Linked DNA regions of Homo sapiens: all the other regions are reported to be linked to region 6. Evidence: microRNA targets listed by miRTarBase, many of them from high-throughput screens and not tested one by one. Region 6 holds a microRNA gene; each other region holds the end of a gene's coding sequence. Distances are between the middles of the regions.
Evidence for each region. The annotated mature microRNA hsa-miR-215-3p reads UCUGUCAUUUCUUUAGGCCAAUA and lies in region 6 at 3,004-3,026, shown strand. An mRNA with a match to its seed (bases 2 to 7 or 8) in the 3' UTR can be bound and repressed. Matches are read on the target gene's strand: a 7mer-m8 pairs with bases 2 to 8, a 7mer-A1 pairs with bases 2 to 7 and ends in A, and an 8mer does both.

Region 1: the mRNA of ADCY2 is a reported target of hsa-miR-215-3p. Seed matches in the 3' UTR shown: 7mer-A1 at 220-226.
Region 2: the mRNA of SLC16A5 is a reported target of hsa-miR-215-3p. The part of its 3' UTR that is shown has no 7-base or 8-base seed match.
Region 3: miRTarBase lists TRAT1 as a target of hsa-miR-215-3p. The part of its 3' UTR that is shown has no 7-base or 8-base seed match.
Region 4: the mRNA of DBT is a reported target of hsa-miR-215-3p. Seed matches in the 3' UTR shown: 7mer-A1 at 2,114-2,120 and 7mer-A1 at 2,765-2,771.
Region 5: the mRNA of DEPTOR is a reported target of hsa-miR-215-3p. The part of its 3' UTR that is shown has no 7-base or 8-base seed match.

Annotation. Positions count from the first base shown.
Region 1 is chr5:7,826,195-7,830,283 of GRCh38, reverse strand. It overlaps ADCY2 (adenylate cyclase 2), which reads right to left. Exons shown (of 25, transcript NM_020546.3): 25 at 203-3,565. The coding sequence ends at 3,413. Among named protein-coding and RNA genes, the nearest start is that of CFAP90, 23 kb to the left of the region's middle.
Region 2 is chr17:75,105,354-75,109,353 of GRCh38, reverse strand. SLC16A5 (solute carrier family 16 member 5) reads right to left here. Exons shown (of 7, transcript NM_004695.4): 7 at 3,192-3,474. The coding sequence ends at 3,321. Among named protein-coding and RNA genes, the nearest start is that of ARMC7, 2.6 kb to the left of the region's middle. RefSeq lists an enhancer at 3,664-4,000.
Region 3 is chr3:108,853,430-108,857,529 of GRCh38, forward strand. It overlaps TRAT1 (T cell receptor associated transmembrane adaptor 1), which reads left to right. Exons shown (of 6, transcript NM_016388.4): 6 at 191-1,576. The coding sequence ends at 448. Among named protein-coding and RNA genes, the nearest start is that of TRAT1, 33 kb to the left of the region's middle.
Region 4 is chr1:100,192,864-100,196,971 of GRCh38, reverse strand. DBT (dihydrolipoamide branched chain transacylase E2) reads left to right here. Exons shown (of 11, transcript NM_001918.5): 11 at 550-4,108. The coding sequence ends at 717. It also overlaps the pseudogene RPL23AP90. Among named protein-coding and RNA genes, the nearest start is that of LRRC39, 17 kb to the right of the region's middle.
Region 5 is chr8:120,049,144-120,053,251 of GRCh38, forward strand. DEPTOR (DEP domain containing MTOR interacting protein) reads left to right here. Exons shown (of 9, transcript NM_022783.4): 9 at 433-1,775. The coding sequence ends at 561. Among named protein-coding and RNA genes, the nearest start is that of COL14A1, 74 kb to the right of the region's middle. RefSeq lists an enhancer at 1-182.
Region 6 is chr1:220,116,795-220,120,902 of GRCh38, reverse strand. It overlaps MIR215 (microRNA 215), which reads left to right and starts at 2,941; the gene lies at 2,941-3,050. The region is part of intron 12 of IARS2 (isoleucyl-tRNA synthetase 2, mitochondrial); the gene reads right to left. It overlaps MIR194-1 (microRNA 194-1), which reads left to right and starts at 2,662; the gene lies at 2,662-2,746. It overlaps LOC124904515 (a long non-coding RNA gene), which reads left to right and starts at 1,790. Exons shown (of 2, transcript XR_007066883.1): 1 at 1,790-1,918; 2 at 3,020-3,161.

The sequences.
Region 1 (4,089 bases), not on the chromosome of region 6:
AAAGATCTCACATTTGTTAGGCCATAAGAGAAAATGAAGTATATTTCTCTCGGTATCCCAATGTTTATCATTTAAAGCCAATGCATGAATGCTTGTTAAAGCCATCACACATCATATCTTCTTATATTAATGGATTGTTTTGGTTTATCAAATTTTCATCACTGGGCAATTATGTTGCTTTTTCTTTTTTTTCTTTTTTTTTCTGAGACAGAGTCTCGCTCTGTCACCCAGGCTGGAGTGCAGTGGTATAATCAAGGCTCACTACGTTCTGGACTTCCTGGGCTCAAGTGATCCTCCCACCTCAGCCTCCCATGTAGCTGGGACTACAGGCACGTGCCACCATGCCAAGCTAATTTTCTTATTTTTTTGCAGAGATGGGGGTCTTGCTATGTTGCCCAGGCTGGTCTCAGACTCCTGGGCTTAAGTGATCCTCTCTCCTCGGCCTCCCAAAATATTGGGATTATAGGAGCCACTGCACCCGGCCTGATGATGTTACCTGGTCATTCGGTGTATCCAGAGCAAAGGAAAGATGAATGGTTGCTGCCTTTAGGAGCACAGTGAGTTGGGAAGGAAGAATAACATCCTGGATTGATGACAAAACTTAGACACTCCTAAACAGATATGTAAAACACTGGGGTTTTTGGGAAACTGGACTGGAGGCAATTTCTATGAGAGGCTTCCTGTAAGACTTAAAGGTTAAGGAGAGCATTGGGGAGAGATTTTTTTTTTTTCTTGAAGCCAATGGCACTGGGACCTGGGCTGATGAGAGGTGCACTGCCAGTTTTCTGCCTGGCATTTTTGCTCACAGGGATGCTTTTAGCTGCCCAGAACTTTAAGGAGCTTTGACCAGGAATAATGCTCTTTCAGATTCAAGGAACAGGCAGTTTTCCATTCTAGCCTGGCCTCAACTGCTAATCAACTGTGGAACTCTGAACACATGTGCCTGAATTACTCTGCCCCTGTTTCCTCACCTGCAAAAACACTGGGGAGGGAGGGAGGTCTGAAGCTTGATCAGGGATCAGAATCACCTGGAGAACCTGTTCACTAAACAGCAGTTGTGCTGGGCCCCAGCCCCGGGGATCTCAAATTCAGGGTCCTCCTTCAGGTTGGGGCCTGAGAATTTGCATTTTTGATAAGTTCACAGGGGATGCTAAGGCTGCTCCTATGGGACCACACCTAGAAGGGACCAGGTACACACAGAGCTTCCCATAGTGGATTCTGACAATGACTCAATGCTTTTAAAAGCCTATTGTTTGGTAAGACTGGTGATATGGCTTTGGGAGAGCACAGTTCTCCTTTTGAGTTCTTTTTAGCGCAAACCCAAGTTCGGTGCACCCCGTGGGGGAATGGGAGGGACTCTGTTTATGAGAACTTGGTGGACCACCCAGCTGGGGGTGTTCACTCAGGGTAGGTGAACTAAGGTGACCTGCGGATGAGTGTAGCAGGATGTAACAGAGGAAGAACCCACGAGGCACGCCTGCTGCTCATCCTTACACATTTTACACCAAGGCCAGTTTGAGCTCACGGAAACGCTACGGCATCCGTGAAGAATGAGTTAGAGGAAAGAGAAAAGCCCTTGTAATAATTCTCTTGCTTTAATCACTGTTTTTGGAGATTTAGGTATATTAAGGCCAATGCTGAGTTGTGATTACAGGATCAAAAAATTCCCCATTGAGGCAGAATACTAAATAAGTCATGCTCTACTCACACTTCGGTGATGAAGGACGGTTATCAGCTTCGATAAGTGCCTTTTACTGGGAATGAGTCACAGTCCTGGCACAGCAGCTGTGCCCGTGCTGTGAATGTACCACGGGGCACCTGCCAGGCTCGCTCACAGTCATTGCCTCGTTTAATCACTAGCGAGTCCATAAGTTGCCAATAAGGAAAGTACTCCTAAGAGGGACTAAGAGATGTGTTCAAAGTCACACAGCCAGTAAAAAATCAGAGCCAGGATTCAAACCAGGAACTTGTGCTTCAAGTTCGAGTTCCCACGAATAAAAGGCTTCCTAAGAGATCATCTGGGTTCTCTACTTCTTACAGATGCCTGCCATGAGTTATAAAAAGAAAACAAGTTTGACCAACTGGGCTACAATTTGCAGTTTTGCTTTTAAACATTAGCTTATACACGATTGCTCTACTTTTCACTATTTGGCAAAGTATGATTTCTTTATGTTAAAAGTACCAAACAACTTGTGTTGGATTTACAAGAACAAATTCTTCAAGGCCTTCTGTCTTTAAAAATGCATGAACGTTGGCTGTGTGTCTTCTTTAGCCTTCTCAGACTTAACAGGCAGTTTGTGGGTCTTAGTACTTCTCTCAGTTAGCTCACGCTATTGTGAGACTGATTTGCATAGCTGATTCCAAATTATTCTTTTGCAGTCTATGTCTGTTAGCTCTAGCAAAACATTCTTGGAGACAGGAGCGTAGTGGACGGAGGGGGCACTGTTGCTCGCAGAGAATCTTTTTACTATTAAAGTATTTTTCCCTGAAAGCGTTCTCTAGAGATGCCCAAATTAAAATCAGACCACTAGATACATTCAACATGCTTGCCTGCTTTCCAGGGAGCTGAGTAACCAGTTATCTGCGTCACACACTGTGTCCTAATCTGAATTACATCTCAATATTGGCTTCTGGAGAGCTCTTTCTGAAACAACTGTGTCAAAAGGGAGAATGGATGGAAAACAAACCTTAATTCTGGAGCAAACCACAGGAGAAAGAAGACAGGAAAATAAAAGATACAGGCACTGTAAATCAAAGTACATAAAACTTTTAATGAATTAACTTTACAAAAGACAAATGGCATCAAAACATCAGACGAGTTTGATACAAAACTGGTCCTAGGCTGTGAGGACTAATTCTGGTGACGGATGGCGACGTGCTGCTGGCATGAGACACACGGAGCAGAGGGACGAGAGCCGTGGGTCCCAACGGGGGCCCTTGGACACCACTGGCAATGAGACAATGGGTGAGCACAGAGTCCACGTGGGGGACAGAATCAACTTATTCACGAATACTGTGTGTTTGAATATCAGATGAGCAGATGCGGTTGGCGAGCTACCATATTTTCCAGAAAAGAACATGCACCAGAAGATAATATACACCCCCTAGTTTTATTGCCTTAAGAATGTGTGTGTGTTTCACCTTTCTCCTCTGTTAGTTCTCCCAGTGCTTTTCTTCTATCACGCGCGCTCCTTTTCCCTTTTGCTTAGGAGCAAGCACAGTGCAAGTGGCAGAACGATCTGGGCACACATCAGACACCAAACGGTATGCCACTGGGTCACGAGAACGAGTCTGCAGAGGCTCCATAGGACAGACAGCACGCACATCAAAAACAAGGGACAGAAGTTGCAGTCAGAAAGTGTGTGATACCTTCCTGAAAATACAGTCTTCTTGCCAAAATGAAGGTGACTCTTCAGGATGCCACGTTGCTCTGGGAAAGGGACCTTGACATTTCTGTGTTTACAAAGTACGTCTTCAGGTCCCCCTTTCCTTTCACGTTGATTATTCCTCGACAGGTGCACGTGTATCCGAGGGTCTGCAGGACGAGGCTCGTCTCCTCGGTAACCTAGAAGGCACAGGAACACGGGAAAACGGGCTTAGTACATACATTGATACAACCCATCTGACTCAAGGATGCAGAGCTAAAAAAAGCACCATGCTCTTTGACCCAGGAATTCCACTCCTGAGAAGTTAGTAGAAAAGTGAGAGTAATCCACAAGAAAAAAAGGTTGTAAAGGACAATGTTGTTTAATTCAGCGCTGGGATAGTGAAAAACTGGAAACAACCTAAAATTCAAGTAACTCCAGTAAACTACGGTGCTACCATGATGCTATCATGGATGACACAATGTCAAACCATTTCACCCAGAAAAGGAATTGAGCCTGGATCCAGGCTATGATTTCAACCACATGATGTTATGTATTCACACTGAAGAGACCTGGATGAAAGAGAGTAAACCAAAATAGATTGGAGTGGTGGGATTCTGGATGATGTTTATACATTGTCATGAATGTCCTTTCATGAAATAAACATTAATCATAGATGTCAGTGTCGATGGGAGGAACACCCCGAGAAGGAGCACTGAGCACT
Region 2 (4,000 bases), not on the chromosome of region 6:
ACCCGCCCTCCATCCCAGCCCCGAGGTGGGTCCGCCACCTCTGGACAGAAATCAAAGGGTACTGGGTCATGTCCTGGTGCTTTTTGTCAGCCGGGTGGATGGCGCGCGCCCGGGGCAGCACGGGGGAGCCCGAGGAGGAGCCTTGATTGTGGCGCTTTCGGGGCTTTCTGGATGCTGAAGCCCTTCGGCCGATTCCTTCTCGGAGATTATCAGGAAGCGGGTGTGTGATAGATTGCTCGTGGTTACAGGAAACAAAGCACCAGGGAAGGAGGTGGTCTAGCCACACTCCCATCGCATTTGACAACGTAGGGGTAGAGGTGGCTTAGGCTGTGAGTGTCCTGAGAGTGCAAAAGTTGTTAATCTAAATGGAGTCACTTGTGTTAAAAAACAGAACAAAAAAACCCGGACACAGCCCAAGAAACCCATGACAAGAGGGTTCTCGTGCATAAATACCTGATAATGAAAACTATCACAAAGACTCTGCAAAAACCACAACCTTGCACAAAGGGCGTCACAACCTTGCACAAAACATACTTTTGAATGGCCATCTGCCCAGCAACCGCTTGTCCAACCTTGAGCGGTCACCCTTGTTATTAATCCTTCTACCTAAGGATAAATATTTCAAAACAATTATGTAATCCTATTTTTTCCCTTAAAGCCTGTCTTCCTTTACCTCCCTGAATACCCATATAGTTTACTATGGCATGGATACTACCATTGCAATGCCCTATGCCCAAATAGATATCATTTTCTTTGAGAGAGCCTCTCTGTTATTTAGGCTGACAAAGGCAAGGACCATTATCTTAAGCCCTGGGCCCGGATGAAGGCAGAGTGGCCGTCACACTCCAGCCAGCTGCAGCCCCATTGGAAGCAGGCCTCACCTCTGAGGTTTCAGGTCCTTGTGGTCAGCCCCTGCCCTATGTACACCCTCTGAGGCAGGAGTTTCTAACTTAGTCTGGGTACCTAGGCCCCAGGACCCTCACCAAAGCCCTTTGGCTTCTCTTGGGAGCCTCTGCAGCCTGGGAAGTGCATCTTACCCCTAGGTGCCCAAGGGGTTTCTCTGCCTCTTGCTGGACAGAGCAGCAAATAGGAGCCCAGAAACAGGGAGGATGGAAGTAAGCTCCATCCCTCCCTGCCCAGGAACTGCCCCAGACCTTCTCTAGAGGTTCGCAGGCAATCAGCTAGATGGGGATTGCTGAATCAGATGGGCCACCCCATCTTCCCTCATTGGTCTTCTCCCTTTTTTTCTTTTTGAGATGGAGTCTCGCTCTGTCGCCAGGCTGGAGTACAGTGGTGCGATCTCGGCTCACTACAACCTCCGCCTCAGATTCAAGTGATTCTCCTGCCTCAGCCTCCCGAGTAGCTGGGATTACAGGCACGCACCACTGCACCCAGCTAATTTTTGTATTTTTTTTCTGAGACAGTGTCTCGCTCTGTCACCCGGGTTGGAGTGCAGTGGTGCGATCTCAGCTCACTGGAAGCTCCGCCTCCCAGGTTCACGCCATTCTCCTGCCTCAGCCTCCTGAATAGCTGGGACTACAGGCACCCGCCACGACGCCCGGCTAATGTTTGTATTTTTAATAGAGACGAGGTTTCACCGTGTTAGCCAGGATGGTCTCGATCTCCTGACCTCGTGATCCACCCGCCTTGGCCTCCCAAAGTGCTGGGATTACAGGCGTGAGCCACTGCGCCCGGCCTAATTTTTGTATTTTTAGCAGAGATGGGGTTTCACCTTGTTGGCCAGGATGGTCTCGATATCTTGACCTCGTGATCCACCTGTCTCAGCCTCCCAAAGTGCTGGGATTACAGGCATGAGCCACCGCACCCAGCCAGTCTTCTCCCTTCTTAAGGCCTCAGGGAGGGGCCCTCCTTGGGGTGGAATTCTCAGCCCTTGGTAGGTCTTACCTCTGCCCAGTCTCTGGCACACAGTAGATACTCAGTAAATATTTATTGAAGGAATTCTGCCCAGAGATGATTGCTATTCTTGCCTAGGAGCAGGTGAGATGAAAGTTTCCTATGCAGAACATTCATTGATACCTTTTTTTTTTTTGGGAAGGGGGGACAAGGTCTCTGTCACCCAGGCTGGAGTGCAGTGGTGTGATCACAGCTTACTGCAACCTTGAGCTTCTTGGCTCAAGGGATCCTCCCACCTCTGCCTCCTGAGTGGCTTGGACTACAGGCCTGTGCCACCATGTCCAGCTAAGTTTTAAATTTTTTGTAGAGATGGAGGTCTCCTTATGTGGCCCAGGGTGGCCTCTCAAGTGATTCTCCCATCTTGGCCTTCCAAAGTGTTGGGATTACAGGCATGATCCACCACACTTGGCTTTTTTTTTTTCCCTTTCCTTAATTTTTCTGTAGAGACAGGGTCTCTATGTTGCCCAGGCTGGTCTTGAAGTCCTGGTCTCAAGCGATCCTCCTGCTCTGACCTCCCAAAGTGTTTTTTTTGTTTGTTTGTTTTTTGAGACGAGTCTCATTCCATCACCCAGGCTGTAGTGCAGTGGCGTGATCCCAGCTCACCACAACCTCTTCCTCTCCAGTTCAAGCAAATTTCCTGCCTCAGCCTCCCAAGTAGCTGGGATTACAGGCGACTGCTACCACGCCTGGCTAATTTTTGTATTTTTAGTAGAGCTGGGGTTTTGCCATGTTGGCCAGGCTGGTCTTGAACTCCTGACCTCTAGTGACCCACCCATCTTGGCCTCTCAAAGTGCTGGGATTACAGGCGTGAGCCACCACACCCAGCCTTTTTTTTTTTTTTTTTTTTAAAAAAAAGACAGGGTCTTGCTGTGTTGCCCAGGCTGGCCTCAAACTCCCAGGTTTGAGTGATCCTCCCACCTCAACCTCCCGAGTAGCTGGGATTACATGTGCGCACTGCCATCTCCAGCTGATATCTTTTTTCTTTAAATGTTTTCAGGAAGTGGGCTCATTACGGGATGCACACAAAACCTGGTGGATACTAGCACCAAAAGCACCTATCTACCAGCCCCACCTCCCTCCTTTTCCATTCAACTGAGATGGAGCAGACAGGATTTGGCAAAGTCCATGCAAGCACTCTCCCTTCAGAGCATGTGGTATTGATGGCAGCCAAGTGTAAGACTGGGTGGGGAGCCAGAAGGAAATGGAGTCGTCAGGATGCTCACCGAGTCAGACTTTTCAACCGGAAGAGACTAGCTCATCCAAACCAACCTCCTACGTTTTCTTTTTTAAAATTAAATTTTATTATTTTGCTCTAACAAAGTAACCTCCTACTTTTTCAAGGCTCAGAGGTGGTCAACAATTTGCCCAACTCACATGGCAGATAGTGGCGGAGTCAAACAGGGCACTCAGGTAGGGCTATTCCAGCCCAGAGCCGTTTGCTTGGCCTGCAGTACCGCCTTTGGCCATAAGAGCCACTCATGGCTGGTCCTGGAGGAGGCAGGACATCCCCAAAGATGCTTATTGACGCCAGCTGGACGTGGCTGGCGGGAAGACTGGCACCTGTTCATGAAAATAAAATCTCCTGATAAGGTTTTCTTGCGGAGCCTGGTTGAGCCTGAATCAACAAACAACATCCTGAACCTGAGCACCCCTTGCTGAGCTAGGAGGAAAGGAAGGGTGAGGGGAAACGTACTCCAGCTCTGTTTGTCAGCTTCATTAGTTCACAGAGTTTATGACCTGCTGCAGGGAACATTTTTGTGTGTAATTCAAACACATTCTGTTTTATCATTCCCTCGGTACCCTGCTGGGACAAGAATGGGCTGATGACAGCCAGCCCCTGGGTGGTGACTTCAGGGAAAGGCACCAGCAAGATGTGTGTGTGGGGAGCTTGGACCGCCAGTCACAGGCACAGGTGTACGGGGAGCAGGGGTGAGTCCAGCCAGCCACTTACCCCAGGGTTGACACCAATAACACGGCAGGGAAAAGGGGGGCCTCTGGAGGACAGGAATGGGGAGTAAAAGAGCTTCCCTTGCAAAAGCAGCCCCATTTTCACAACAGTCTTCGGGCTGCCTGGCAAGCCTTCCTC
Region 3 (4,100 bases), not on the chromosome of region 6:
TCAAGAGTGTTGGCTGACTATAGTTTTCTGTTCTGTTTTTTGTTTTTGTTTTTTGTACTGACAAATTTGGCAAAACAAGGTAGGTGAGGCCTAGAAAACAAGTTACTTGGTTTTCATACGCCACAGAAATTTCCAGAAGTCAAGCTAAAGAACAGACTAACAATGAAAAATTAACATCCCTTTCTTTTAGGCAACCAATGAAACACAGATGTGCTACGCCTCACTTGATCACAGCGTTAAGGGGAAGCGTAGAAAGCCCAGGAAACAGAATACTCATTTCTCAGACAAGGATGGAGATGAGCAACTACATGCAATAGATGCCAGCGTTTCTAAGACCACCTTAGTAGACAGTTTCTCCCCAGAAAGCCAGGCAGTAGAGGAAAACATTCATGATGATCCCATCAGACTGTTTGGATTGATCCGTGCTAAGAGAGAACCTATAAACTAGCTGGACCATGATCTAGTTCAATGATTTGGCTCCTATTGAAGATGGCTTCTAAGAAAACAAGATGCACAGAGGACACAGAAGGACTTGGCAGCAGGGTGATGACCTGATCATTTGTTGATGGGATGGTGGCTTACCTCTTATTCACAGCTTACACTTATGCATGCCAAATGTAAGGCCATGAAAATCAGTATTTCAAATAACTTAAAAAATGCTTTACTACTAAAATGTAAAAAATTAATGTGCTCACCTCGGCAGCACATATACTAAAAATTAATAAGACCCAGCTTGAAAATTGAGCCTGATAACAAGATTACAAATTCACAATACCTAATACTTAGGGAAATATAAAAATTTAAGCATGAATGTGTTCTGGAACACGTTAGAAGAAAAATAAAAGCCAATGAGTTTTTTTTTAATTCTCCTTTCTCACCAATGGGCAATAGCCCATAATTGAAATAAATTTCTGATTGAAAGGTATAGGAAACATTAAAATGCATTACTAAGAGAAGTAATATAATTTTCTTACAAAGTATTTTTCCCAAAGATAGCTTTACTATTTCAAAAATTGTCAAATTAATGCATGCTCCTTACAACAAACAAATATCAAAAAGAGTTTAGGAATTCTACTAGCCAGAGATAGTCACTTGGAGAAACTTTCTATATATCCTTCTAAATATTTTTCTGGGCATGCTTATGTATGTACATCAGTTGTTTCTTTTTATTTTGAACCAAAAATGTGGTTTCTTTTGTACACATTACTTAAACTTTCTTTCCAGTCAACAATATATTGTGGATTTATTTTCACTGTTATATTTAACTATATATAAATACGCATATATTGTAATTTTAATGTCTGCTTAGCACCCCACTGATAACCAAATCACAGTTTATTTAAATAATTTTAATGACTTTTCAAAAACAATTTATTGATGCAAAAAGCAAGGTTGAGATGACAATGTTTCTTTCAATAATTAAAAAATACTGCTTCACTGTCTTCTCTCTGTTTCATCAGAAACACATACTATAATACTTGTCTCTGTCCTTAAGTGTGATACACGCTATTTTTCTGATTGTTAAGACTTTCCTTATTACTGGTTCTAATTTGATTATAATATGCCAAGGTATGGTTATTTTTCAAGTGTCTTGTGTTTGGAATTTGTGGAGCTTCTTAGATCTATGTATTTATATTTTCATCAAATTTGGGTGGGGGAAAATGACCAATATTTTTTTTTCTGTGACCCTCCGCATTTTCAAGTTTTTCAATTACTTGCAAATGGTCCCACATTTTACTTATCTGTTTATTTTATTTCATTCTTTTTTGTATTTCATTTTGGATAGTTTTTCTTGCTACATCTTCAAGTTCATGAATCTTTTTTTTCTAAATGATCTAATCTGCCATAATCCTAGACAGGACTTTTTAATCTCAGATAACTTAGTTTTTATTTCTATAAATTTAGTTTGGGTCTTTTGTCCCCCATATTTCATGTCTCTAACGTACTTAATCTCTCATCTAACATCTTCAACCAATGGATACAGTTGTAACAACTGTTTTAATGCTTCTTAAAATCTACTAATTCTGTTATCTGTCATTGTGAATGAGTTTCAAGTGATTTATTTTTCTCATTATGGGTTATATTTTTCTGCCTCTCTAAATGCCTGATGATTTTTAATTAGGCAGAAAATACTGTACATTTTCCTTTGTTTGGCAATGCATATTTTTGCATTCTTATGTTTTTGAGCTATGTAGCTGAAAACTAACTTGATAGTTTGTTTTCAGTGACATAGCTAACTGAAAACTATCAAGTTACTTGAACACAATTTGATCATTTAGAATCTTGCTTTTAAATTTTGTTAGATTAAGCCAGAGCAGCTTTTAGACTAAGTTAAATTTAGTTTATTACTGAGGAAAGATCCTCGTTAGTACTTAGTACCACCGTTCATGAATTAGGACGTTTTCCACTTTGGCTGTTGATAATCGACACTATTCCCAGCCATGTGTGAGTCATGGGCACTGTTTTCTTTATTATTTTCAGGTGGGTTTTTCCCCAAGTTCGGGTAGTTTTGTCACTTGCGTGCACTGACCAGTACTTAACTGAATACTTGACGGCGACTCTTCACATATCTCCAGAGTTTTCTCTACACGCAGCTCTCTTCTCTCCAGTATTCTGCCTTTTTGACTTCTCTTGACCTGGAGCTCCATCTCCTCAATTCAAGAGATCAATGGTCTTTTACCTAGGTTTCCTCTACCTGCTCCAAGGCCTGAAACTTTTCTCCAGGCAATAAGATAGGATGATAGGAAGGTTTACCTCATTTGTTTCCCATCTTTCAGGGACCGACCTTTGTCCTTCATTGCCTGAAACAGTATGTCAAGTAACACTGTTTCATCTACTTTGTCTGGAGTTTAGTTGTTTCAGCTGGCAGAGTATGTTCAGGTAGTAGGGTAAATCTAGGATGTTATTCTATCTTTGTCAGAAGCAGAAATCCAAGGCATTCTTACCACTTTACTGTAATTCTATAGTATATTTTTAGTGTAATTTAGTATAATTCGATAAGCTAAGCAGGATCATTTGAAATGTGAGTAAGCTATGAATTACTGATCATCATGTAATTATTAGGGACTATATATACATCACCTTTGGCAGTTTTCAGGGCTTATGTTCCAGAAGGAATACAGGATGAATATCCTGTATTTGGAAACAGAAGTGTTTCTGATTTTTAGATTTTGGAATATTTATTCATATGTAGTGAAGTATCTTAGGGATGCGACTTAAGCCTAGACAGAAAATTCATTTATGTTTATATACACATAGCTTGAGGGCTATTTATGTAATATTTGTAAATAATTTTGTGCATTCATCACATAATGTCAGGTGTGGAATTTTCCACTTGTGGAGTCATGGCACTCAAAAAGTTTTCCACTTTGGACCATTTTGGATTTTGGATTTTCAGATTATGGATCCTCAGCCTGTATCATTATAAGCCTTAACATTTCAACTGGAAAAAAAATATGTACGGAGGAAAAGAAAAAGAAAAATCATGACTAGAAAACAGATGAATTCCAAGTCTTGAGATTTTCACTGACAATGTTTTAAAGGTCCGATAAGTTGAACTCAAATCTCAAAAATAGGAGGGATAACTCATTTCCTTTTGGTATTAAATGGCTTATTTCTAGCAGAGTAAAGGGAGGGTGATTAGTTTAGACATATGCTTTAAATCTTCCTCTGAGGTTTTGTCATTTGATTAACAGAACAGACAATTTATATTAACACAGAAAAACAGAGCATTGACAGAAAGGAACAAGACAGAATATAAATTCAACAGAGGTACACTTCTAAATGCTATTTGCCATTCTTTAACCTCTTCTGAAGGGCTCTTCTGCACCCACTCACAGCTTCTACTACCTAGGAAGTCATGCATCAAGGGTGGGTACCTGAATCACGACAGTGGATTCTCCTTTTTTTCAGTTTCAATAAAACTTTTTTTACAAAATCAAGCAGGCCAGATGTAGCCTAGGGGCCATAGTTGGCTGACGCCTGGCAAGATCATTTGTTTCATTAGGAGCTTGCAAAATGATATGCTAGTCCTGTTATTCCTTCTTCATGTATTAGTTGGAATACATTATAGGAAGAAGACAGTAGATTCATCTTTGAAC
Region 4 (4,108 bases), 120 Mb from region 6:
TGATCAAGGTGTTGACCTTGGCCGCATCAGTGTCATAGAGCTTCCAGCCTGTTTGATGTGGTGCTTACTAGCTTTAATATCCACAAAGAACACAAGCATGTTGTTGTCCTGTCTTCTTCCTGGCCAACTCAGTGGTCAGGGGAACTTGATAATGGCTTGTTTCCTCACTGCCTTCAGTGAGGAAGCCTTATTTAATTGTCTGTCTCTCCCCAGAGCCTAGAAGAATACTTGGCACATAGTGGGTATACAGTAAATAATTATTAAATATTTGAAATCTGAGATGAAAGTTAATGAATGTAGGTATGGGAATTGTACAAGGGATAGGAAGTACCTTGGAGAACTTCTGTAAGCTCCAGGCATATACTCAAAGATGGGAAGAGTAGGAATCAGCATTTTCAAAAGTCATTGGGGATGCCCATTTTTTTCTGTACTGTACAGGAAGAAGGGTTTGCCTGATCTTACACCATTGTTAGAGCTTGAGCTCTGAACAAGTGAAGGTTTACTCTTTGTTCTTTTTTTTTTTTTTTTTTTTTTTTTTTTCATTTCTAGGCCATTCCCCGATTTAACCAGAAAGGAGAAGTATATAAGGCACAGATAATGAATGTGAGCTGGTCAGCTGATCACAGAGTTATTGATGGTGCTACAATGTCACGCTTCTCCAATTTGTGGAAATCCTATTTAGAAAACCCAGCTTTTATGCTACTAGATCTGAAATGAAGACTGATAAGACATTCTTGAACTTTTTGAGCTTCCAAAGAGTATGTAAACCCTAGCTGTGCCAGCACATGTTCATCTTTACAATTTATATTGTAAATGATTTGTATCGTATGATTAAGGATCTAAGGCACAATATTTGTCACTGTTCTATTAGACTTTTTACTGAAAATGAATAATGGTGTAATGGTTCTCCTGGGGCTGTCACATTTTATAGGTCAGAGTGTGACTTCTTAATATGGTGCTGATGTTTTTGTGTCAATGGCTTGAAACTGGCAAGATTAACAAAATTAGGCCGGGCATGGTGGCTCACGCCTGTAATCCCAGCACTTTGGGAGGCCCAGGTGGGCGGATCACCTGAGGTTAGAAGTTTGAGACCAGCCTGGCCAACATGGTGAAACCTGGCCTCTACTAAAAATACAAAAATTAGCCGGGTGTGGTGGTGGGTACCTATAATCCCAGCTACTTGGGAGGCTGAGGCAGGAGAATCGCTTGAACCTGGGAGGTGGAGGTTGCAGTGAGCTGAGATCGTGCTATTGCACTCCAGCCTGGGCGACAGAGCAAGACGCCATCTCAAAAACAAAAAAACAAAATTCATGTTACTAAAAGACAGGTAGCCATATACAGACAGTATATGCCCTATTTTTTTTAACTGACTCTTAATGAAACTTTAATTTTACTTAATTAAGAAATGGAATTTATATACAAAAATATTTTCCATTTCCGTTATTATGCTAATTGTTGTATGAAATAAGTGCAATTATACTTCTCTTTTGAGATATCCAAGAGTATATTCTTGCTCTGTATAGAGAATATCATCTGATAGTGTCTTATTTATATTAATTAATGTCTTTGAAAAGGGAAAAGTATAAACTGGCCTTAAAATTGTCCAATTATAGTTTTATAACCAGTCTATTAAAGGTGTTTGTTTAAAATGGATATAGTTTTAGATTTGTGGTAATGCTTTGGTATTTTCTTGGGGAAGACCTTCACCTTTGCAAACTTCCCTCATGTAAGGAAGGTACTTTAAATGTAGCAGCCACTGACATTTCTTTTTTTAAAAAAAATTTGAGAAGTCTACTTCCTTTTAACTTTTTTGGTCTTCAGCTAAAAAATAGGATAAGAAATTAAGGTCTATTCCATTCTCCATATCCTGGGTAAGAATGTAAATAAGAGGAGAAGGAAGAGTCTAATAGTAATTATGGATATAAAAAATAAGAAATTTTGTATAGAAATGAAGGTTTCATAATGATCATTTTGTTAAAGGTCTACTTTAATCAGAAATAGCAACGAGATGAATGTATCCAACATTTCAATTTGCATTCGGAAATCCATGTTGTTTCTAATATTGTCCAGTTGAAAACTGTATGCCAAAATTAGTTGTTTAAGTGAAGTTTTGTGACAGAAAAAAGGTTGTTTTAATATCTACTTGGTTTTTCTCAAAATGGAAATAATTTTAAAATCAGGAAAGAATAAATCAGCCAGGTGTGATGACTTGTAACTGTAATCCCAGTTATAGGGGAGGCTGAAGCAGGAGGATCACTTGAGGCCAGGAGTTTGAGACCAGCCTGGGCAACATAGTGAGATCCCATCTCAAAAAACATTATTTTTAAAATTAGCCTGGTGGCTCACGCCTGTAATCCCAGCACTTTGGGAGGCCGAGGTGGCCAGATCACCTGAGGTCAGGAGTTCGAGACCACCCTGGCCAACATGGTGAAACCCCATCTCTACAGTTTTGTAAAAATACAAAAAATTACCTGGGCCTGGTGGCACACGCCTGTAGTCCCAGCTACTTGGGAGGCTGAGGCAGGAGAATTGCTTGAGCCCAAGAGGTGGAGGTTACAGTGAGCAGAGATCACACCACTGCACTCCAGCCTGGGTGGCAGAGCAACACTTTGTCTCAGAAAAAAAAAAAAAAACCAAAAAGCCAAGTGTGGTGGTGTGCACCTATAGTCCCAGCTACTCAGGAAGCTGAGACAAGAGGATCAATTGAGCCCAGGAGTTCAAAGCTGTAGTGAGCTGTCATTGTGCCACTATCCTCCAGTATGGGTGACAGAGTGAGACCTGGTCTCTAAAAAATAAAATAAAATAAAAAAAACAGGTCAAATAAATGCTGTTGTTGTAAAATTTCAGATAATACAAAGAGTTAACCAATAAAAGAAAAAGTCATTCATAATCTTACCACTATTAACATTTTGATGTATCTATCTGTATGTATGGCTATTCTTTTTTGTTAAAACATGATCATAGCATATCTACTATTTTATTATTTGATTTTTAAAATTTAACATTATATTATGGGTAACCTTACATGTCAATAAACAATTCCACATTGTCATGCTTTAAATGGCTGCATAGGCTGGGTGTGGTGGCTCACGCCTGTAATCCTACCACTTTGGGAGGCCAAGGCAGGTAGATCACAAGGTCAGGAGTTCGAGACCAGCCTGGCCAATATGGTGAAACCTCATCTCTATTGAAAATACAAAAATCAGCCAGGCACGGTGGCAGGCGCCTGTAGTCCACCTACTCGGGAGGCTGAGGCAGGAGAACTGCTTGAACCCAGCGGCAGAGGTTGCAGTGAGCCAAGATTGAGCCACTGCACTCCAGCCTGGTGATAGAGCGAGACTCTGTCTCTAAATAAATAAATAAATAAATAAATGTCTGCATAGTATTCCATTGTATGCATTTATTATACATTCAAACATTAAACATCTACCATACCAATCATGGTTCTAAGCATACAGTAGCCACCTTCATGCTTCCTTGATTGGGCTTACAGTCTAGTAAGGAGACAGATATTAAATAACTGCATAAAACACTGTTCTTGGTAGGTAATAACCCAGATGCTATGAGCCATCCAGTAAAGGTTACCGATCTTATCTGGAAGGATCAGAAGATGGATGTCCCATAATTTAACCAATTATCTATTGATAGGCATTTATTGAGTTTTAAATGAATAATGACATGATCAATAAAAATGTCCTCCTCACTTAAAGAATAGAAAAACCAGGAGAAGGGAGTTCTGAAATAAGTAAGTATGTAGGTCCAGCATCAATGGCTCAAGATACTCTATTCCCAAATAACCCTTAAGTTATCTGGTTCTATTCCAACCCTTGGGTATTACTATCTTCTCTTTGGTCTCATGCATTGAGAATTCAGCAAAGGATTTGTTCCCTACAGTGTGCACGGCCCTTAGGATAGCAGGATTCCCTGAAGAGGGCCAAAGGGGCAGGAGCGCAGCCTTAGTGGCAGTGCTGGTCCATGAGGCTCTACAAAGCAAGGGATGGGTGTTTGGGAGGAGGAAAAGGCTCTTGCTGTACTCCTAGAGGTTGGAATTAAAGTGGAAAAGCCAGAAAATTCAAGTCCTTTACTAACATGTCTGGAGATTAGAAGG
Region 5 (4,108 bases), not on the chromosome of region 6:
AATTGGGAGCAAGCATGCCTGTGAATTACTGCAAGTAGAAACTATATATGTCATTAATTCTTACAACAGTCTTATAAGGTAGGTATTACTCTTATTATTATTATTAATTCTTATTTTAGGGTTGAGGGAAATAAAGCTCAGAAATTTAAATACCTAGCTAGTATTTAAATACTAGCTAAAGCTAGTATGTCTCTGAGTTAGGATTTAAGCCAAATTTTGTAAAACACTAAAACGATTTTTTTTTTTTTAAATTATACTGCCTTCCAGAAAATGTGTAGCTCCTTGGAAATTATTGAATTGGAGTCGTCAGCTGGATACATTTGGATATTTTAAGAATGAAGTTACCTGTTAGGGCTACACACTGTCTTTATTAAAGCTTTGTGCAAAACCAGGCGCTATAATAGATGCTCTTTCTTTGCATCTTTCCTTTAGGTCTGTCAGTTTGTCGTCTCTGTCAACGGGCTCAATGTCCTGCATGTAGACTACCGGACCGTGAGCAATCTGATTCTGACGGGCCCACGGACGATTGTCATGGAAGTCATGGAGGAGTTAGAGTGCTGAGCTCCTGGGCCTCCCAGCCCTCCAGTGGCCTGTGGGTGAGGGAAGCCAGAATGACACAAAGCAATGCAAAGACAAGATTGCCATGCAAATGGATGGTTTTGGACATACGAGTCTTCTCCGCACATACATGTCTAAAGTTGAGTTTTATACACTGAATGTGGAAGAACCGGGTATCATATCTTTTTTAAAAAATGTCAGTGTAGAAAACATTTGGGAAACCATTTTCCTACATGATAGAACTGCCTTACTAGATTTCTATTTGTAGCTCTCATTCATTGTTTTTTATCTTAGTTTGCAGAAAGGTGTTGAAATGCTTCTCTAGCCCAAACAGCGACATGCTAAAGTCCCCTTCTTCAGAGTCAATAGAGTAGTTGTTAAAGGTTTTAAATTGTACTTTCTCCAAAATTAGCATGCAGCTATTTAATAGGGAATCTAGATTTCACCAAGATTCAAATCAAAGCAACATTTAAAGGAATAAGACCTGTTCACTAGCATTTTCAAGGGGGTTCTAAAGCATTCAAGTGCTTAAAAGCCATAAAAAATGACTTCTTAATTCCTGCCTTTAGTGTCAACTTTTAAGTTAATACAGGTTTCAATTGTGGCATTAGGAAAAAAAAAAACCTTGTGATGCTATGGTTGGGGGTAGTTAGGGAGAGACTACATGAAATTGTGTGCCCCTATTTTCTTTCTGATCCTAAATCATTTTGTTTTATAAATCAGCTATAGCATCTTTCTAGAATTAATCCTGAATATGTTGAATGTTAAAATAGAGAAGTTTGTATATACACATAATTAAAAATCAACCCTTCTGGCAAGATTTCACTTTGAAGGTGTCTGTTTTTAAGGGAAGGCTAAAACTTTGCTGATATGTGATAAAACTTGAACTCTAAATTGCCTCCTTAGCCTGAATTTTTACTAGCTTTCTAGTGTAACATATTCTAAGGACATGACATGCTGCTTATTTGGGGGGATTATTTTTCACCAAAATGATCATCTTGTGTTGTAACTTTTCAGCTCACTTGTATATACGCACGTTTTCATTTTTGGTCTAGAAAATAGTGCATTTTGGGGCTCAGCGTGCAGAGGAAATTCCTCAAAGTGCCAAATTAGGCAGTCAGGAAATACTAAATTCTTCATTCCAAATAATGGATCTGAATGATGACGTTAATTTTTTATCATGCATTAACAAAATAAAATATGAGAATTGTACCACAGCCATTTCTTTTCATTAGGTTATCGTAATGTATAGGTACTGGTGGAATGGACCTACCGTGCTAAATATGTTATAGACATATATATATATATATATATATATATATATATTTCTGGTAATCCAACTTTTCTGATTTGTAGCTTTAGTCAGAGAATAGGATTTTGGAGTGACAGAGAATGTCTAACAGTAATACTGTTGATATACATTTGAGAAATACTATCACCTCTGTGTGGGTGTGCATTTGTACTGTATGGCAGGCTCTGTGCATTTAATATATATGATATCCTTTAACCCTCAATGCAACCTTGCAAGGTAGATATTAACGTCCACATTTTTCAGATGTGGAAACTAAGCCTGAGCAAGTTTTAAAATGGTCTCTAAATTCACACGGCTGCAGGAACTACTAGGTGAAATAGGCTGAATGTAAACACAGGTTTAACGCTAAATCCCATGTTACTCCCCTCAACTTTTCCCCATTTAAGGACCTTATATTGAGGGTTTATTCTGAGCCAGGCTGTATGCTAAGACTTTACGCCATTTGTCCTTATTTACCTGTGAAGTCAATACGGTCATTATCTCCATTTTACAAATGAGGAAACTGACTTGTAAAGTGGTTAGTCATATGCCCAAGGCCACAAAACTAATAAAGTGGGAAACCTTACCACTGGCTTAAAAAAATTTTTTATAGCATCTTTAAAAGATGAGTCTTAAATGCTTTCTGTGCTCAGGTATTCATTAAGTGACAAAAGAAGAAGGAATACCTTTCGAGAAATGGTATCTCCTTTTGAGAAATGGTATCTTCTTCTTGCCTGCTTTACCCATTATCTTGGACCCTGGCATAATAGAACTTCCCTTCAGCCAACCTAAGCACCAGAGAAGCATTTCTCTGTATCTATTGCACACGATCTCCTCTTGGCTGTGAGGAAGGAAGGAAAGAAGGGAGAGAGGATTTCCTTCTTTGGTTCCCATCACCCTAAGTTCAAAAGCCAAAGGCCATGAGAGCTTTCCCTTAGCTACTCCTCCAGCCCACCCCTGACATCTTTACACAGCAATTAAAAAGACTACCCCTACCTTCCTGGGGACCCTATCTCACTCCCTCCAGCCCTTGCACATGTACTTTCTTCTTCGTGGAAAGAAGAATGTTCTGTCTTACTGTTGCCTGGAAAATTCTTTCTTCATGTAAACTCCCTTTAGAAATTATCTCCTCTGAGAAGCCTTCACCAGCTCCCCAGTTCTAGGATTGATGCCTCTTCTCTAAATTTACATGGATCCTTAAGTCCTCCCTATGCCCCGTTAGAGCACTGATGACATTTACTTTGAAATTCCCCTGTTACATGTCTGTTTGCCTAAGTAGACTCTAAGCATCTGCAGAACAGGGGCTATGTCTTAGTATCCAGGGTATTTTCTTCACCTGGCACAATTCCTGCCACAGAGTAGTGTGTCAGCTCTCTATTGTTGTCTAAAAACCCACCTCAAGGGTGGGGTGCAGTGGCTCATGCCTGTAATCCCAGCACTTTGGGAGGCTGAGGCAGGCGGATCACTTGAGTCCAGGAGGTCAAGACCAGCCTGGTCAACATGGTGAAACCATGTCTCTATTAAAAAATAGAAAAATTAGCTGGATGTGGTGGCAAGCACCTGTAATCCCAGCTACTTGGGAGGCTGAGGTGGGAGAATCGCTTGAACTTACAAGGTGGAGGCTGCAGTGAGCCAAGATAGTGCCATTGCACTCCAGCCTGGGCAACAGAGCGAGACTCCAACTCAAAAAAATAAATAAGTAAATAAAAAATAAAAACCTGGCCAGGCACAGTGGCTCACGCCTATAATCCCAGCACTTTGGGAAGCCGAAGCGGGTGGATCACTTGAGGTCAGGAATTTGAGACCAGCCTGGCCAACAGGGTGAAACCCCGTCTCTACTAAAAACACAAAAAATTAGCTGGGCGTGGTGGTGCACGCCCGTAATTCCAGCTACTTGGGAGGCTGAGGTGGGAGAATTGCTTGAACCCAGGAGGCAGAGGCTGCAGTGAGCCGAGATTGTGCCACTTCACTCCAGCCTGGGCGACAGAGTGAGACTCTGTCTCAAAAAAAATAAAAATAAAAACCCATCTCAAATCATGGCTTAAAAAAAAATAAAAATAAAAACCCACCTCAAATCACGGCTTATAGCAACACCCTTTATTTGCTTATAATCCTATGCTCTGGCAGTCTGGGCAGAGCTCTGCTGGCGTGATCCACCACTGCTCCATGGGTGCCAGTTGGGACTCCACACACCTTTGTGGTTAGTGAGCAGATTGGTTGGAGGCTGATTGACCTTGACTGGCCTCATGTATGTGTCTC
Region 6 (4,108 bases):
ATGCACTTTAGTAAGCATTATGTTCTATAATTCGGTTCTATTATGAGATTCTAGATAAATTATTTGTATTTTTAAAACAATAAAGTTAATTTTAAAATAAGAGAGTAAAGAAAAACCCAACAAATACATGTTAATTAGCTAGATTTAGCCATTCCACAATGCATACATATTTCAAAACATGTTGTACATAATATAAGCAATTTTTGTCAATTGAATAAATTAATTTTGGGCGGGCACGGTGGCTCACACCTGTAATCCTAGCACTTTGGAAGGCTGAGATAGGTGGATCATTTGAGCTAAGGACTTCAAGACCAGCCTGGGCAACATGGCAAAACCCGGTCTCTACAAAAATACAAAAATTACCCAGGTATGGTGGTGCGTGACTATAGTCTCAGCTACTTGGGGGGTGCTGAGGCAGGAGGATCACTTGAACCCAGGAGGCAGAAGATGCAGTGAGCCGAGATTGCACCACTGCACTCCAGCCTGGCAACAGAGTGAGACTCCATCTCAAAAAAAAAAAAGGCCGGGCGCGGTGGTTCACGCCTATAATCCCAGCACTCTGGGAGGCCGAGGCGGGCGGATCACCTGAGGTGGGGAGTTCGAGACCAGCCTGACCTACATGAAGAAACCCCATCTCTACTAAATATACAAAAATCAGCCAGGCATAGTGGCGCAAGCCTGTAATCCCAGCTACTTGGGAGGCTGAAGAAGGAGAATCGCTTGAAGCTGGGAGGCAGAGGTTGCAGTTAGCCAAGATCCCACCATTGCACTCCAGCCTGGGGAACAAGAGCAAGACTCCAACTCAAAAAAAAAAAAAAAAGTGTGACAGAGAGCTTTGAAAACAAAAATTGCAATAAAAATAAACAGACATATAACCCACAAACTTGAGCTAGGTATAATGATGATAAAAACAAAGATAAACTTAATGTTCAAACAAAATCTAAAAAGATAATTTGAAAAAAGTATATAAAGTTAACTGTGAACAAGTGCTCAAAAGACACTCATTATAGAGATGTGACAAACATCTAACAAAATCCAAACACTGGATAAGTTATGTTCATTTGATTTTCATACACAAGGAACTAGGCAACCATTAAGAGCTAAGCTGACATTTTTAACAGGTACATATTCATTCTTCTATAACTAATTAAATTACATCTTCTTTTGTATATCATTATGTTCCTTTATAAACAACTGTATTGGACATCTTATATACATATCCTCACACAAGAGGTATTAGTCCTATTTCCTTTGGGTAAATACTTAGAAGTGGAATTTTTTTATAATGAAACCAAGATAATACTTAAAAGATTTCTTAAATAATTTTCTGTTTCCTAAAAAAATTTTTAAACAATTTTCTAACTATTTCCTTGTGATATTTAATATTCTTCAGAAAAAAATGCAGGAAAATTCCTAATTTGTCTGAAATTTAAGAATTCTACCTTCATTTCTTTAACATTGTATACTTAACACAAACTCATAGTTAACCTATAACCCAAAGATCAGTATAAACGACTGCTGATAAAAGTGGGTGAAACCACTTACCAGTATGTAATCTATATGCTTCCATCTTAATGCTTTACTTCATAAAGCAATAAATCCATCATAAAACCTTGTACTTTACTCAAAGGCCTTATCTCAACACATGCATTACGTGTCCCTTCTTAGGTTTCAATCAGTGAAAATCCACTAGGTAGCATGAGCAACTATGACATCAGCCAATCATTCTGAACTTCGATATCAACCGGAATGAGGCTTATTTAGCGTGTTATGGACATTAAGCAGCATTAAGATTACTAAAGCAACAAAGAAACGACTGCTGTCATCCCACTGTCTTCTGTGTTTTGCCTTTATAAGCAAAAATATTGAAGATTATTAAGACAACTTTTCTTCTGTAACTTACTGGAAGAAGAATGAGGTAAGAGGCTAAATGTTTCACATTTGTTTACTAAATTTAATTCTAGAACAATGTGAAATTTGGAAGGGGAAATTCTATTTTTAGTTTAATCCTAGATTTATGTTTTAAAGCTGACAGAAAACCATTTTGAAGAAATTTTTCTTTATTTAATGAACATAAATTTTTTGAACAAAAGGTTTATTATTGTTAACTGAGAAAAAATTTGAGGTAGCTAAAGTTAACACTCAAATTATATTGGAAATTCCTTGGCTATTTTTACTAAATTTCTCATAATTTCCAGAAGTTAGGGGCTAAGTTTCACTATGTTAACTATAGCATTAATAGCATGAAAGTGATTATAACTGTTTGAAATGATGAAAGAAATTTAACCAACTTCTTTTCCTTCCCAGGTAGCCAGTGTTTCTACATTTTATCTTTTTTATGCTAAAAATTATTTCTTCTGTTTTTATTGACTAGTAACAGATTTCAACCCAAATTCTAATGGCATTATCTCACAGATTCAAAAAATGACCAATGACAGTAAAGTCAGAAATGGAATTATTTCTTGATAAAATACAAATATGATCTAAAATGCAAATGACACTATTAATTCAAATCAAAATAAAACATCAGCGTTTCAAATCTACCAGTCCCTAAACTTATTTAGAACATGAATAAATCGAGACTTTCTTCTGTGAAACAAGTATACTTAGAGATATCGTACAGCTCCCATGATGAGCAAAAGGAATCTCCTTATATGTTTAATGGTGTTATCAAGTGTAACAGCAACTCCATGTGGACTGTGTACCAATTTCCAGTGGAGATGCTGTTACTTTTGATGGTTACCAACTTGCTACAATATAAAGGTATAATAAAGAAAGACAGAAAATTGTGGTCACTTGGACTCTCATTTGATTCCAGCAGAAAAAAAGATTTTCAGCCTGTTTTATAAAATTAACAAATGATTAAGAATTAATATCAATTTTCTTAAATTCAAGTTTTGTAACACCAAAAAGATCCAATAATGGAAGAGGATTAAAGTCATCATTCAGAAATGGTATACAGGAAAATGACCTATGAATTGACAGACAATATAGCTGAGTTTGTCTGTCATTTCTTTAGGCCAATATTCTGTATGACTGTGCTACTTCAATATCAGAAATCGACTAACACCACGCAACCAACGCAATGGCAGGTACACAGAAGATAATCTGTAACACTACCATGTAAATGTATTGAGTAAATAAAACATAAATATACCTAATGAAAACTTGTGTTTTTCTGACAAAGCTCATATTTATTTAACCTAACTTACTGACCAGTCAACCTATGTACCATTTAATTATCAGGATGTATCAATTAAACCAGTTTGCTATATTTACTAATACATACATATGATCCACCTCAGAGTCCAGAGGGCTATTCCACCAAGGAATCCCCACCCACCTCAATCACTTCAGTGAAATTCCCTAGACATCTTGCTCTCTAAATAGTGAAAAGAAGAGTAGCCGGGCACAGTGGCTCACGCCTGTAATCCCAGCACTTTGGGAGGCTGAGGCGGGCGGATCACTTGAGGTCGGGAGTTTGAGACCAGCCTGACCAACATGGAGAAACCCCGTCTCTACTAAAAAATATATATATATAAAATTAGCCGGGCGTGGTGGCACATGCCTCTAATCCCAACTACTCAGGAGGCTGAGGCAGGAGAATCACTTGAACCTGGGAGGCGGAGATTGCAGTGAGCTGAGATCGTGCCACTACACTCCAGCCTAGGAAACAAGAGTGAAACTCCATCTCAAAAAAAAAAAAAAAAAAAAAAAAGAAGAGGAGACAATGACATGGCTTATAAAACTTTCCAAAAAAAAAAAAAACTTTCCAGTGTGAAATTTTAAACAAATGTTTGTGGAAACTCGTCTCAGGTATAATCACTTTAATTCTTTTTCTTTTAAACTAAGTCTGAGGCTGGGCATGGTAGCTCATGCCTGTAATCTCAGCACTCTGGGAGGCAGAGGTGGATGGATCCTTTGTGGCCAGGAGTTCGAGACCAGCCTCGTCAACGTGGCAAGAGCCCATCTCTACTAAAAATACAAGAATTAGCCAAGTCAGTGGCGCGTGCCTGTAGTCCCAGCTACTCAGGAGGCTGAGGAGGGAGAATCACTTGAACCTGGGAGGTGGAGGTTGTAGTGAGCCAAGATCACATCACTGCACTCC